Linked DNA regions of Homo sapiens: region 2 is linked to region 1. The links come from fine-mapping of genetic effects on gene expression. Tissue or cell type: whole blood. Region 1 holds a variant in brackets; the other region holds the start of a gene. All regions are shown on one strand. Distances are between the middles of the regions.

Region 1 (8,000 bases):
TATTTCCTTAGGGTAAAATCCTAGAAGTAGAATTTTTGGGGCAAATTATCTACATATTTATAACTGTCTTGGTATTCAAAATCTCGTTTTCAAAAAGCTTATATCAATTTGTACTTAACACCAGTAGTGAATGAGAGTATCTGTCGTACCCCACCAGTGCTGAATTTCTTTTTTAAAACTGTGCTGGTTTTTATAGGTAAAGAAAATGTCTTAATTTGCATTTAGTTGGTTACTAGTAATATCACATACCTTTTCAATGCTTGTGAACTTTAAGCTTATACAGAGTTTAACCTTGCATGTTGAACATTTGAGTGAGTGGAAGTGTTAAGTGATGGCCATCTGTATAATCTATTAGTAATGTATGGAGACCATTAAAGATGACAGGTATGTGTGATGATGACAGGTTGTTACCAACACTCAGAAGGCCAAAAAGCAAGTGATATAAACCCATGCTGGGAAGCATTCACCTCCCCCACTTTAAAAATGCTAGTTTCTTAATTCCTTTTCTTTATCCCTTTTTTTGTCTGCACGTGTTTACTTGCCTTTAGTTTCCCTGCTTTAGTAGGCTGACCTTGTGACTTTTACCAGGATCCCATTATACTTTTGTTCTTCTGTTTATTTCTCAGATTTTATTGGAGGGTGGAATTCTACTTTTTCTTTCTTATAATCTAGAATTTACATTCAGATTTCCTGCCTTTCCCTTACAAAATACCTGTGTAGTTGGATAGGTGGAGCTCTGGACTCAGAGTTCTTTCTTCTAGTAATCTTAGGAAATTATTTAATTTTTCTGTGTTTTCATATTTTCACACATAAAAGAGAAAACACCATTTCTAAACTACCTCTTCTTTTCTCTGCTTTTAAGCATGTAAAGGTTTTCCCAATCTTGGGCAGTGACATGTACAGGACAGTATAGCTTTACATCTGCCTTGTTTTAATTAAACACTAGTTCTTTGAGGTAACCCCTACTATTATCCCAGTTTTATGGATGAGGCACTGAGGCAGGGGTCACACAGCTAGTGTGGGTCAGAACCTAATGGGTCAGAATGGACATTTGAGTCCAGAGTTTGGCCTGGATTGACACACATAGCTATTACGTAAGATTCCTCTCAAATTCAGTCCTCAGCTCCCTGAAGTGTGGGTTCTCTTTTCATGCCTCCATGGAAACTGCGTATCATGTGGTTACCAGTTTTTCCTTTGGTCGTATCTGCTGACCTTTTTGAACCTAATTTTTTCTGGACCTTATTGCCATTTGACTTATTTATTGCCTCCCACTTGACACTGATTCTGGCTTTTGCTTTTCTTCCTACTTTGGTCCTTTTTGCAGTTTTCTAAAGCTAACCAGCCATGACTCTCAGATGATGGACTTTTTCGTCTCTCCCATTACTTCTTGGGAAATTATATTTTAATCTCATGGTTTAAATTTTCATCCTTAAATATAACTTTTAATGTAGTATTTTTAGCCCAGAAGGGCCCATGGTTGGTTTGTTTTCTCCTTTGCATATCTCTTCTACTCAGATACCTGGTAGCATATAAATCAAATGAATTATCCTTCATACCATTTCATTATCATCAGTAGGACTGCTTTGCTGGGGTTTTTTTGTGTGTGTGTTTTTGTTTTTGTTTTTGTTTTTGTTTTGAGATAAAGTCTTGCTTTGTCACCTAGGCAAGAGTGCTAGGATTACAGGCGTGAGCCGCTATGCCAGGACAGCCGTTTTCTTCTAGTATTATTTGCCCTCTGTCTGAACATCTTCCTTTAGTAATGCTTTTAGAGCAAGGCAGCTGGCCTCAATTTGTTTTAATTTTTCTTCCCCTTAGGATGTTTTAATTTTACCTTTATTACTGAAGGATATTGTTACTGGGCAGAAAATTGTCTTGATATTCCCCTTTTCAGCATTTAAAAAATGCTCTTCTGCTTTCTTTCAGCCTCCATGGTTTCTCATAAAAATCAGTCATTCGAATCACTGTTCTTCTAAAAGTAATACATTGTTTTGTTCTGGTCACTTTCAAAATTTTCTTTTTCTTTTCAGCAGTTTAATTATGGGACTGTGTGAGGATTTCTTTGTTCATTCTGTTTGGAGTTCACTGAGCTTTTTGAATCTCTAGGTTTATGTCTTTTACCAAATTTGGAAAATTTTTCAACCATTATTTCTTCAAAATTTTTCTGTACCACATTCTTTACTCTTTTTTTTTTTGAAACAGAGTGGCGCACTGCAACCTCTGCCTTCCCGGTTCAAGTGATTCTCCTGCCTCAGCCTCCCAAAGTGCTGGGATTACGGGTGCCTGCCACCATGCCTGGCTGATTTTGTTAATTTTTAGTAGAGACGGGGTTTTACCACATTGACCAGGCTGGTCTTGAACTCCTGGCCTTAAGTATTCCGCCTGCCTGGGCCTCCCAAAGTGCTGGGTTACAGGTGTGAGCCACCACACCCGGCCCTTTTTTTTTTTTTTTTTTGAGACCGAGTCTCGCTTTGTCACCCAGGCTGGAGTGCAGTGATGTGATTTTGGCTCACTGCAGCCTCAGCCTCCCAAGTACCTGGGATTACAGAGATGTGCCACCATGCCCAGCTAATTTTTGTATTTTTATTAGAGATGGGGTTTCACCATGTTGGCCAGGCTGGTCTTAAACCCCTGGCCTCAAGTGATCCGTCTGCCTCAGCCTCCCAAAGTGCTGGGATTACAGACGTGAGCCACCATGCCTGGCTCTTTACCCTCTTCTGGGAGTGACAACACAAATAACTTTTTATTCCACAGGTTTCTGAGGCTCTGTTTATTTTCCAATTTTTTTCACTATTGTTCTGGTTAGATAATTTCTATTGATCTGTCTTCAAGTTTCCTGAAATTTGCATTTTGTTGGTAAACCTATTCAGTAAAATGTTTTTGGTTATTTTATTTTTAGTTCTAAAATTCCTATATAGCCCGTCTTTACATTTTTTTATTCTGAAACTTAAAACTTTCCTTTCATTTTAAGAGTGTTTGCCCTTACTTCTTGGAGCATTTTTATGCTCCAAGGATTTTGATATTTTTGTTTTATTGGCCAATTGATCTGATTGGGCTAGGTCCAGCCAGCCTTGTCAAAGCCTTTGCAGTGTTGCTCAGATCTGCCCCATGTATATGCCACCCAGTCACCAGTCTGGGACTGGTATAGTGGTGTTCTATTTGTAATTCGGTTGTCAGGGTCGGTGTGTACTGTTGAGGATCATATCCATACTCACTCACCTTGGGAATGGACCCACAAGTTTATAAACAGCTTTAAGAGATTGCTTTCATGAGTTTCTTTCTTTCTGTGATCTCCATGTGGTTTCTTGGGCTTCCCTTTTCCATTCCTGCAGCCAAAAGTGGACTTTATCTTCCTAAAGTCAGGGCCAAAATGTGGGAGGAGAGAGAGAAATAAAGCAAGGGCTATTTGCCCCACTCTCTCGGGACTGACATTCTTCCAGTCAGAGTAAGGATTCCCTCCCTCTGAATTTTAGGCTTCTGCCACCCACATTACCATCACCACAGGATTGTGTGAGGACTGGGCATACGAGAATGGAGAAAAGCGGAAAAGAATGCCGGGTGTGGTGGCTCACGCCTGTAATCCTAACACTTTGGGAGGCCAAGGCGGGCAGATTGCCTGAGCTCATGAGTTTATGACCAGCCTGGGCAACACAGTGAAAACCTGTCTCTACTAAAATACAAAAAATTAGCCAGGCATGGTGGTGGGCACCTGTAGTTCCAGTTACTCAGGAGGCTGAGGCAGGAGTATTGCTTGAACCCGGGAGGCAGAGGTTGCAGTGAGCCAAGATCGTGCCACTGCACTCCAGCCTGAGCTACAGTGCGAGACTCTGTCTCCAAAAAAAAGGAAGAAAAACTGGATTTTTACACTGTCTGGGTGTTAGGAGACCTCTTTCCTGATCCTCAAGCCAGAACTAGAGGTCTTCTGGAGCTCCCATTGTCTTGCTAATGCCCACTCATGTTGTAATGAGCACAGGTGGAGGAAAAAAAGTGGTCAGCTCACTGCTAGTACTTCTAATTCCCCAGCCCACCTACCTCTCATTACTTTTCATCTTTTGCAACCAGCTGCTGCCTGCTTTCTGCCCAGGTTTTGTAACTGTATTCAGTGGGATAGAGAGAGTGGAAGGTACTTACTCCATCTTATCTGGAACCTTTCTTAATATATTTTTTGTCGCATTTGTACATCTTTTATCCATCCTTCATTTTATTTTATTTTTTTTTTTGAGACGGAGTCTCAGTCTCTCGCCCAGGCTGGAGTGTAGTGGCATGATCTTGGCTCACTGCAACCTCCGCCTCCTGGGTTCAAGTGATTCTCCTGCCTCAGCCTCCCAAGTAGTTGGGATTACTGGGACACGCCACCATGCCTGGGTAATTTTTGCATTTTTAGTAGAGATGAGGGTTCCCCATGTTGCCCAGGCTGGTCTCGAACTTCTGACCTCAGGTGATCCACTGGTTTCGGCCTCCCAAAGTGCTGGGACTACAGGCCTGAGCCACCACGCCCAGCCTTATCCTTCATTTTAGACAGTTTAAGAGGTTTGTATTCAGCCAGATCTCCACATTTACTTGTTCATTTGTGTTGTGATGTTTTTTAATGTTCAAGTCTTAGCACACACAAACAATTATATAGAAACAAGTTGTTTACTTTGACACCCAGTATAACTAAAAGGATCTTTTGAGTCAGAGATT[G/C]AGTAACTTGCCAGAGCCTGTTTGGAAATAAACCCTGAGGATTTTTCATATCAGTGGTTGGTTATGCAATGTCTGTGGCAAGCCCTAGAAACTAAAAGACCAAACCTTAAAATGTTAAAAACAGGAAAGGCAGTTAATTATTATACATAATTTGTTATAAAAGGAACTATAACTTATTAAAGTCAGATGATTTCTGGCCTTGATAGTTTAGGGTTTAGAGAAGATACTGTTGTGTACTATAAAACAGCAGGGCTGTTTTCTTTCATACCCTTTAGCACAGGAAAGCTGAACTAGGGATTTTTGCAAGATGAGAAAGGCCTGTTGAAATGTGTGTGTATAACATAGTAATAAAAGAAATGCATATGAAAATAACAAATTAACATATTTGACATATTGACTTTGTCAAGATTAGTCTTTTTTGTCAAGTAACTAAGCCAGTGTGTATTAATTAAATCAGTAATTAGAAAAAGTTTGTACACTTTGATTTAGTAATTTTGCTTTTATGATATATTCTAAAGAAGGAATTAGAAATGCAGAAAAATATTTGTGAAGTAGGATGTTCATTTTAATGTAAATTAAAATTGGGGAAAGAAAGGGAAAACAATACAGATTCCATGCATAAGGCAAAGGTTCAATTGTGGGTTTATCCGTATGAGTAGACTATTATTTTGTCATTTAAAAATCATAGTTTCAGCTGGGCGTGGTGGCTCACGCATGTAATCCCAGCACTTTAGGAGGCTGAGGTGGGCGGATCACCTGAGGTCAGAAGATCGAGACCAGCCTGACCAACATGGAGAAATCCTGTCTCTACTAAAAATACAAAAAAATTAGCTGGGCGTGGTGGCGAGTGCCTGTAATCCCAGCTACTCAGGAGGCTGAGGCAGGAGAATCGCTTGAATCTGGGGAGTGGAGGTTGCGGTGAGATTGCGCCATTGCCCTCCAGCCTGGGCAACAAGAGCAAAACTCCATCTCAAAATCAATCAATCAATCAGTCAATCAATCATAGTTTCACGCCAGGTGCAGTGGCACGGACCTGTAGACCCAGTTACTTGGGACCCTGAGACGAGATGATTGCTTGAGCCCAGGTTTTCCAGTCTAGCCTGGGAAACATAGTGAGACCCCAGTCTCTTAAAAAAAAATCATATTTTCAAATAATATTTGGTGGCATGAGAATATGTTTGTAATAAAAGATTACATTTGTGAAAGCAGAATGTAAACAGTACACTAGTTGATTCTCACTGTTAAGGTCTTTACACACGCCTATACGTGCAGATAGAAAACATGTCTGAAAGGGAAACGGTTTTATTTTGTTTCGTATTTTTTTTTGAGACAATGTCTCACTTTGTCAGTCAGGCTGGAATGTAGTGGCACTGTCTCGGCTCACTGCACCCTATACCTCCTGGGTTCAAGCAATCCTCCCACCTCAACCTCCATGGTAGCTGGGACTACAGGCACCTGCCACCACGCCTAGCTAATGTTCGTATTTTTAGTAGAGACGGGGTTTTGGCATGTTGGTCAGGCTGGTCTTGAACTCCTGACCTCAGGCAATCCACCTGTCTCAGCCTCCCAAACTGCTGGGATAACAGGCGTGAGCCACTGTGCCTGGCCTGAAAGGGAAATGTTGGTATTAATTTTGGTTGTCACTGGCCTTTAGAATAGTTTTCTTCTTTTAGTGTTTCTGTGTTTCTTAAGTGTTACAAGCATATGTTACTTTTGATTCAGAAAAATGCTATTTTTAAAATAAGCAAGACTGGGCACGGTGACTCTCACCAGTATGGCTGAGACCAGAGGATCACTTGAAGCCAGGAGTTCAAAACCAGCTTGGGCAACAGAGTGAGACCCCCACCTCTACAAAAAGAAAAAAAAAAAATTAAAAAATTAGCCAGGCATGGTGGTGTACCCACGCCTATAGTCCTAGGTACTAGGGAGGCTGAGGTGGGAGTATGGCTTGAGCCCAGTGGTTCGAGATTGCAGTGAGCTACGATCATGCCACTGTACCCCAGCCTGGGCAACACAGTGAGGCCCTATCTCAAAAAATAATTAAAAAAAAAATATTTGGGGGCTCCTAGAAGGTACAGTTAAAAAAATTAAAATTAGGCCGGGCATGGTGGCTCACGCCTATAATCCCAGCACTGTGGGAGGCTAAGGAGGGTGGATCACTTGAGATCAGGAGTTCAAGACCAGCTTGGCCAACATGGTGAAACTTCATCTCTAATACAAAAATCACCTGGGCGTTGGTGGTGGGTGCCTGTAATCCCAGCTACTCGGGAGGCTAAGGCAGGAGAATTGCTTGAATCTGGGAGGTGGAGGTTGCAGTGAGCCAAGACCATGCTACTGCACTCCAGCCTGGGCGACAAAGTGAGGCTTCATCTCCCAAAAATAAATAAATAAAATTAAAAAAAGAAATAAATAAGAACATCTCCTTCTTCCTTTGCCAAAAAACCGAGGTGAAAAGCATCTCTCAAGAATGATGAGAATTTCAATTATTTAATATTTACTCTGGTCCTTAATTTAAAGCTTAATATGGAATCCCAGTGTACATCTCCCACTGGTATTGTTTGTCTTGGCCAAGACAGACAAGTTTTAAAGAGTGAGATAAAATTTAGGCTAAAGTTGAAGTATTTGGAGGGAAATGTACAGATGTTCTCAGCTTACCTTTTTTGTTTTTTTGAGATGGAGTCTCGCTCTGTTGCTCAGGCTGGAGTGCAATGGTGCGATCTCAGCTCTCCACAACCTCCGCCTCTCAGGTTGAAGTGATTCTCCTGCCTCAGCCTCCCAAATAGCTGGGACTGCAGGTGTGTGCCACTATGTCTGGCTAATTTTTGTATTTTTTTTTTTTAATTTATTTTTTATTGATAATTCTTGGGTGTTTCTCACAGAGGGGGATTTGGCAGGGTCATAGGACAATAGTGGAGGGAAGGTCAGTAGATAAACAAGTGAACAAAGGTCTCTGGTTTTCCTAGGCAGAGGACCCTGCGGCCTTCCGCAGTGTTTGTGTCCCTGGGTACTTGAGATTAGGGAGTGGTGATGACTCTTAACGAGCATGCTGCCTTCAAGCATCTGTTTAACAAAACACATCTTGCACCGCCCTTAATCCATTCAACCCTGAGTGGACACAGCACATGTTTCAGAGAGCACAGGGTTGGGGGTAAGGTCACAGATCAACAGGATCCCAAGGCAGAAGAAGTTTTCTTAGTACAGAACAAAATGAAAAGTCTCCCATGTCTACTTCTTTCTACACAGACACGGCAACCATCCGATTTCTCAATCTTTTCCCCACCTTTCCCGCCTTTCTATTCCACAAAGCCGCCATTGTCATC
Region 2 (8,274 bases), 43 kb before region 1:
GCAGGAGAATCGCTTGAACCCGGGAGGCGGAGGTTGCAGTGAGCTGAGATCGGGCCATTGCACCCCAATCTGGGCAAAAAGAGTGAAACTCCATCTCAAAAAAAAAAAAAAAAAAAAAGAATAAGATGGCCTTCTGGCCCTTCTGGGTCTAGGGCAGTAAAGCATCTAAGAGTTGTTGCCAAATGGGCCATGAACTGGGCTGGGTTTTTATATTTGATGAAAAGGAGCCTAAGCACTAACTGATTTGGGAGAGGTCAGATAAAGAAAAAGGAGCATTAACCTTGACTGTGCCTTCAGCTCCAGCCACCTCTTTAGGAGGAAATTGTTGGGCAGGTGGGGGAGGGCTAGTCACGAAACAAAACTGTAAGCCAGACCAGGTATGAGGAGGGGAGGTGATAGAAGGATTATAGGGTGGGGGAGTGGAGGCCGAGGAAGAATTGGGACCTGGCTCGGCCTGGTGAGGAGCAGCCTGGGGAGAAGGGGAGAGGTCAGATGGGTCCGTAGAAAAGGAGGATTTAAAGGACTCAGAGCTTGGGGTGGAGACTGAAGGAACACACAGGAGAGAAAGAAGAAAGATTTGGAACGAGTTGCATTGGGAGCAGAGACTAGGGAGGGACCAATGTGTGAAAGAATGCCTGGATGTCAGGCACCTCAGACCATTTGCCCATTTTTCGACAAAAATTATCTAGATCTTGTAGGATGGAGAAATCAAAAGTGCCGTTTTCTGGCTATTTGGGACCATTGTCGAATTTGTACTGGGGCCAAGCAGGGTTGTAGAAGAAAATAAGGTGTTTTGGTCTTAGGTCAAGTGTAAGTTGAAGAGGTTTTAAGTTCTTGAGAACACAGGCTAAGGGAGAAAGGGGAATGGAGGGTGGAAGTTTGCCCATAGTGAAGGAGGCAAGCCCAGAGAAAAGAGAGGGTAGAGACTTGGAGTGGGTGGTGGTACTTGCCACCCAGGGGAGGAGGTACTTGCCACCAAGGGGAGGTGGTACTTGCCACCAAGGTGAAGGATCAAGGCAGGCATCCCCGTGGTGATCAGACACCTCTGAAATGTGAGTGAATAATCAAGCAGGCGTTCCTGCAGTGATTGGACACCAAGGGAAAACTGTCTTCCCGAGTCTGTGACCAATGCCAGAGTTTTGGGTGCACAGATAAAATGTGTCTCCTTTGTCTCTACTAGAGAGGAAAAAACTGGAATTGGAAGGACAGGGAGATTAAAGGGTAGTGAGAAGGCTGGAGAAGAGAGTGAAAAGGCCGCTTACCCAATTTTAAATTGGTGAGATGTTCCTTGGGCTGATTGATGGGAGGACGCGAGGTCATAGGTGGATCTCCTCATGCAGTGAGGGTGAGGACAGGGGACCAGTTTCCCGAAGGAGTCCTCCTGTCCTGGGTCTTCAGCACCAAATGACACACACGTCCGTGTGAAGAGAGTCCACCAACAGGCTTTGTGTGAGCAACAAGGCTGTTTATTTCACTTGGGTGCAAGTGGGTTGAGTCCGAAAAGAGAGTCAGCAAAGGGAAATGGGGGTGGGGCAGTTTTATAGGATTTGGGTAGGTAGTGGAAAATTACAGTTAAAGGGGGTTGTGCTCTTGTGGGCAGGGGCGGGGGTCACAAGGTGTTTGGTGGGGAGCTCCAGAGACATTATCCAGGAGAAGGAATGTCACAAGGTAATGTCATCAGTTAAGGCAGGAACTGGCCATTTTCACTTCTTTTGTGGTCCTTCAGTTGCCTCAGGCCATCCGGATGTATACGTGAAGGCTTGGGCTCAGAGGCCTAACAGTAGGACATAAAGAAAATGAGAAGAAAATTATCTGAAGGCTGGTTATTCAATGTTAGGGTTTGCTATTTTTTTAAAATCTTACTGCCTTTTTGTTGCAGGACTTTTTTTTTTTTTTGGGAAAAACAGAGTCTCACTGTGTCTCCCAGGCTGGAGTGCAGTGGTGCAAACTCGGCTCACTGCAAACTTTCCTTCTCAGATTCAAGCCTCAGCCACCTGAGTAGCTGAGATTACAGGCCCACACCACCATGCCGGGCTAATTTTTGTATTTTTAATAGAGACGGGGTTTCACCATGTTGTCCAGGCTGGTCTTGTACTCCCAACCTCAAGTGATCCTCCTGCCTTGGCCTCCCAAAGTGCTGGGATTACAGGCATGAGCCACCGTGACCAGGCGTTCATGAAAAATTTTCATGACATTCTGTGAGGTGGGTGGACCATAATTTATTGTACCACATTTATTTATTTATTTATTTATTTATTTATTTATTTATTTATTTATTTTTATTTTTTGAGACATAGTTTCGCTCTTGTTGCCCAGGCTGGAATGCAATGGCGCAATCTCGGTTCACTGCAACCTCTGCCTTCCAGGCTCAAGCAATTCTGCCTCAGCCTCCCAAGTAGCTGGGATTACAGGCATGCGCCACCACGCCTGGCTAACTTTTTTTGTATTTTTAGTAGAGACGGGGTTTCTCCATGTTGATCAGGCTGGTCTCGAACTCCTGACCTCAGATGAGCCGCCCACCTTGGCCTCCCAAAGTGCTGGAATTACAGGCGTGAGCCACCGCACCCTGCCTATTGTACCATATTTAGTTTCCCAATTTTTTGCTATATAATATTCCATGAATATCTTTGCCCAAAATTTTTGTAGATTGTTTCTAAGAATAGTTCATCAGCATTTTAAGACATCCTATTAATATTAGCGGACTGCAATCAGATTGAAGTAGTTCACAAATAGATGGGTTTTAGCCTGTATTTGTTCAATACTGAACTATTGTATGTATCAGGCACTGTTATGTATCAGGCACTGTTCTCAGCACTTGTAAAATGTATATGTGCTGCTGACAAGCATGAGCACTTGTAAATGAACAAACTAAAATCCCTACTCTTGTTAAAGTGGGGGAGGTGAAGAATTTTAAAAACATCTTTTTTCGTTCAACCTTCTCCCACAACTTATCTTTCATTCTGCTAATGGAAAATATTACTTTTGTTCTTAAATATGAAGCTTTTGTGTGTAAAAAGTATTAGAATCTCATGTTTTTGAACAAGGTTGGCAGTGGGTTGGGAGGAGGGATTGGAGATTGATGCGATAGGAATGTGAAGGGATAGCTTGGGGTGGATTTTATTTTTTAATTTTAATTTTTATTTTTTGAGATGGAGTCTTGCTCTGTCTCCCAGGCTGGAGTGCAGTGGTGTGATCTCAGCTCACGGGTTCAAGCGATTCTCCTGCTGCAGCCTCCCGAGTAGCTGGGATTACAGGAGCGCGCCACCACACCCGGCTAATTTTTTTGTATTTTTAGTAGAGACGGGGTTTCACCATGTTGGTTAGGCTGGTCTAGAACTCCCAACCTCATGATCCGCCTGCTTCGGCCTCCCAAAGTGCCGGAATTACAGGCGTGAGCGACTGCACCCGGCCGCTTGGGGGTGGATTTTTAAAGAAACTTTAGAAGAATGTAACTTGCCCAGATACCATGTACCGTTAATTTCATTTTCGGTTTTTTGAATACCCATGTTTGACATTTCTCCGTTCACCTTGATTAAATAAGGTAGTATTCATTTTTTAGTTTTAGCTTTTGGATATATGTGTAAGTGTGGTATGCTGTCTAATGAATTAGACATTGGTACTGTCTTTACCAAAACTGGACAAAGAGCAGGCAGATGCAAAAATCAAGTGACCCAGCAAACCAGACACATTTTCTGCTCTCAGCTAGCTTGCCACCTAGAAAGACTGGTTGTCAAAGTTGGAGTCCAAGAATCGCGGAGGATGTTTAAAATGCAGTTTCTCAGGTTCTCGCCACCCACCAGAAGTTTTGATTCATTGAGTGGTGGGAGAGGGCAGAGATATTTGCGATTTTAACAGCATTCTCTTGATTGTGATGCAGCTGGTTCGCAAATAGGTACCCTAAAGAAATGACAGGTGTTAAATTTAGGATGGCCATCGCTTGTATGCCGGGAGAAGCACACGCTGGGCCCAATTTATATAGGGGCTTTCGTCCTCAGCTCGAGCAGCCTCAGAACCCCGACAACCCACGCCAGCGCTCTGGGCGGATTCCGTCAGGTGGGGAAGGCCAGGTGGAGCTCTGGGTTCTCCCCGCAATCGTTTCTCCAGGCCGGAGGCCCCGCCCCCTTCCTCCTGGCTCCTCCCCTCCTCCGTGGGCCGGCCGCCAACGACGCCAGAGCCGGAAATGACGACAACGGTGAGGGTTCTCGGGCGGGGCCTGGGACAGGCAGCTCCGGGGTCCGCGGTTTCACATCGGAAACAAAACAGCGGCTGGTCTGGAAGGAACCTGAGCTACGAGCCGCGGCGGCAGCGGGGCGGCGGGGAAGCGTATGTGCGTGATGGGGAGTCCGGGCAAGCCAGGAAGGCACCGCGGACATGGGCGGCCGCGGGCAGGGCCCGGCCCTTTGTGGCCGCCCGGGCCGCGAAGCCGGTGTCCTAAAAGATGAGGGGCGGGGCGCGGCCGGTTGGGGCTGGGGAACCCCGTGTGGGAAACCAGGAGGGGCGGCCCGTTTCTCGGGCTTCGGGCGCGGCCGGGTGGAGAGAGATTCCGGGGAGCCTTGGTCCGGAAATGCTGTTTGCTCGAAGACGTCTCAGGGCGCAGGTGCCTTGGGCCGGGATTAGTAGCCGTCTGAACTGGAGTGGAGTAGGAGAAAGAGGAAGCGTCTTGGGCTGGGTCTGCTTGAGCAACTGGTGAAACTCCGCGCCTCACGCCCCGGGTGTGTCCTTGTCCAGGGGCGACGAGCATTCTGGGCGAAGTCCGCACGCCTCTTGTTCGAGGCGGAAGACGGGGTCTGATGCTTTCTCCTTGGTCGGGACTGTCTCGAGGCATGCATGTCCAGTGACTCTTGTGTTTGCTGCTGCTTCCCTCTCAGATTCTTCTCACCGTTGTGGTCAGCTCTGCTTTAGGCATATTAATCCATAGTGGAGGCTGGGATGGGTGAGAGAATTGAGGTGACTTTTCCATAATTCAGGTGAGATGTGATTAGAGTTCGATCTGCGGTGGTGGCAGAGGCTTACAAGAAACACTAACGGGACATGGGAACCAATTGAGGATCAGGGAATAAAGTGTGAAGTTGACTAGGAGGTTTTCAGTTTAGAACATGGCAGAGACATTCTCAGAAATAAGGAAGTTAGGAAGAAAGACCTGGTTTAGAGAGGAGGGCGAGGAAGTGGTTTGGAAGTGTCACTTTGGAAGTGCCAGCAGGTGAAAATGCCCTGTGAACAGGACTGGAGCTGAAAACAGGAATCAATTCCATAGATTTCCAGTTGATGTTGGAGCAGTGGAGAAGTCTAAGCTAAGGAAGGGGAAGAGGAGGCCAAGGCAAACACTTAGGAACACTTGCAACGAGGGGGTGGAAGAAGAGCAAGGAGCCAGCTGAGGAGAATGAGTGTGGTTGGAGAACCACCACAGCGCAGGGTCGCCAGAGCTGAGGAAGGGGAGGGAAGCTTCAGGAAGGAAAAGGTTGGCAGGGATTTTGAGTGTTAGGCCTGGTGTAGCAGAAGGAACAGAAGATTTAGAGCAGCGCTAGCCAATAGAAATAAAATGTGAGGCCCGGGGCGGTGGCTCACGCCTGTAATCCCAGCACTTTGGGAGGCCGCGGGGCGGATCCTTGAGCTGAGGAGTTCGAGACCAGACAACACGGCGAAACCCCGGCTCTACAAAAAATTAGCTGGGCGTGGGGGCGCGCGCCTGTAGTCCCAGCTGCTCCCAAGCGAGGCTGAGGCAGGAGAATCACTTGAACCCGGGAGAAGGAGGTTGCAGTAAGCCAAGATTATGCCACTGCACTGCAGCCTGGGCAAAAGAGTGAGACTGTCTCAAAAAAAAAAAAAACCTGTTTTGTTTTTCTTTTGGAGAAAAGGCATACAAATTTATTAGCATGCAGACTGGGAGAACCACAAGGTGATTATCCCTATTTTAAATTTTCTAATAAACATACTATTATTTATTTATTTATTTATTTATTTATTTATTTATTTATTTTTTGAGACGGAGTCTGGCTCTGTCGCCCAGGCTGGAGTGCAGTGGCGCGATCTCAGCTCACTGCAAGCTCCGCCTCCCGGGTTCACGCCATTCTCCTGCCTCATCCTCCCCAGCAGCTGGGACTACAGGCGTCCGCCACCACGCCCGGCTAATTTTTTTGTATTTTTAGTAGACACGGGGTTTCACCGTGTTAGCCAGTATGGTCTCGATCTCCTGACCTCGTGATCCGCCCGCCTCGGCCTCCCAGAGTGCTGCGATTACAGGCGTGAGCCACCCTGCCCGGCCGGCTATTTATTTTTTTAGAGATGGGAGCCTCACTATGTTGCCCAGGCTGGTCTTGAACTCCTGGAGTCAAGTGATCCTCCCGCCTTGGCCTCCCAGAGTGGTGGGATACAGGCACAAGCCACTGTGCCTAGCCATAAACACATTTTTAAAGGTAAAAAAAGGCCGAGCGCGGTGGCTCACCCCTGTAATCCCAGCACTTTGGGAGGCCGTGGCGGGCGGATCATGAGGTCAGGAGATCGAGACATCCTGGCTAACACGGTGAAACCCCATCTCTACTAAAAAATACAAAAAAAAAAAAATTAGCCGGGCGTGATGGCGGGCGCCTGTAGTCCCAGCTACTCGGGAGGCTGAGGCAGGAGAATGGCGTGAACCCGGGAGGCGGAGCTTGCAGTGAGCGGAGATCGCGCCACTGCACTCCAGCCTGGGCGACAGAGCCAGACTCTGTCAAGAAAAAAAGAAAAAAAATGTAAAAAGAGGCTGGGTGGCCGGGCGCAGCGGCTCACGCCTGTAAACCCAGCACTTTGGGAGGCCGAGGCGGGTGGATAACCAGATCAGGAGATGGAGACCATCCTGGCTCACGCGGTGAAACCCCGTCTCTACTAAAAGTACAAAAAATTAGCCAGACATGGTGCCAGGCACTTGTAGTCCCAGCTACTCGGGAGGCTGAGGCAGGACAATGGCGTGAACCCAGGAGGCGGAGCTTGCAGTGAGCCGAGATCGCGCCACTGCACTCCAGCCTGGGCAACAGAGTGAGACTTCGTTTTTTTTTTAAAAAAAGGCTGGGCACAGTGGCTCACACCTGTAATCTGCCAGCACTTTGGGAGGCCGAGGCAGGTAGATCACCTGAGGTCAGGAGTTCGAGACCAGCCTCGCCAAAATGGTGAGACCCTGTGTCTACTAAAAATACAAAAAATTAGCCGGGTGTGTTGGCGTGTACCTGTTATCCCAGCTACTCGGGAGGTGAGGCAGGAGAATCGCTTGAACCCAGAAGGTGGAGGTTGCAGTGAGCCGAGATCATGCCACTGCACTCCAGACTGGGCTACAGAGCGAGACTCCATAAGAAAAAAAGAAAAAAAAGGGGGGCAAAAAGAAACAGATGAAACCAATGTGAATAATTTATTTTAACACAATATACCTAACATATTTTTATTTCAATATCTAACCAGTATAAAAATTTACTTGTTTTGCCCTCTAGAGATAGTAAGCTCCTTAAGTAAACAGAAGTAATACCTGATTAATTAGAATTCCCAACCCTCATCAAGTGTGTGCTTATATAGAAGAAACCCAGTAAATGTTTGTTGATTGAAAGATATTAATACTCTTGCTTGGATGAGAGTGAGGAAAAAGGTATTAGTATTGGCTTTTCACAACGCCTTGTACGGTTTCTTGTTTAAGTTGATCAAAGCAAAAGAAAGACTGCAGGCAATGCTAAATATAACAAGTGATTTACAAATTAATTAGACGTAAATAATCATTTTTCATTAAAAATTAGTTGTATTCTGTCCATTTCCTCAGAATTTTAGACAATGATTTTGAATAATCATATCTCCCTTATAGAGTTATTGAAATTAAATAACTTATTGGGAAAGATTCTTTATAATTATACAAAGGTATATAGGACCATAGTCTCATATCCAGAGTTCTGAAATCCGAAAACTAAAAGGTTTTTCTTTTTTTGCTATTCTTTTTTTTTTTTTTTTTTTTTTTTTTGAGACAGAGTCTCCCTCTGTCGCCCAGGCTGGAGTGCAGTGGCACAATCTCAGCTCACTGCAACGTCCGCCTCCCAGGTTCAAGTGATTCTTCTGCCTCAGCCTCCCGAGTAGCTGGGACTACAGGCGTGTGCCACCACACTGGGCTAATTTTTGTATTTTTAGTAGAGGTGGGGTGTCACCATATTGGCCAGGCTGGTCTCGAACTCCTGACCTCGTGATCCACCCGCCTCAGCCTCCCAAAGTGCTGGGATTACAGGTGCGAGCCACTGCACCTGGCCAAGGTTTTTTATAACTAATTTA

Direction of the effects. Positions count from the first base shown, and alleles are read on the strand shown. Sizes are in standard deviations (SD) of each study's normalised expression.
As copies of C replace G in region 1, the expression in whole blood of the gene that starts at base 4,251 in region 2 goes down (moderate effect, 0.51 SD a copy in Lepik 2017).

Evidence for each region. PIP is the estimated chance that this variant, and not a neighbour inherited with it, causes the effect.
Region 2: PSEN1 starts here. The variant in region 1 is fine-mapped to the expression of PSEN1 in whole blood (TOPMed, PIP above 0.99).

The regions. Positions count from the first base shown.
Region 1 is chr14:73,175,786-73,183,785 of GRCh38, forward strand. All of the region lies in intron 5 of PSEN1 (presenilin 1), which reads left to right. Among named protein-coding and RNA genes, the nearest start is that of PSEN1, 43 kb to the left of the region's middle. The variant G/C (reference allele first, on the strand shown) is at 4,681.
Region 2 is chr14:73,132,257-73,140,530 of GRCh38, forward strand. It overlaps PSEN1 (presenilin 1), which reads left to right and starts at 4,251. Exons shown (of 12, transcript NM_000021.4): 1 at 4,251-4,327. RefSeq lists silencers at 4,031-4,110, 4,371-4,430 and an enhancer at 4,601-4,710.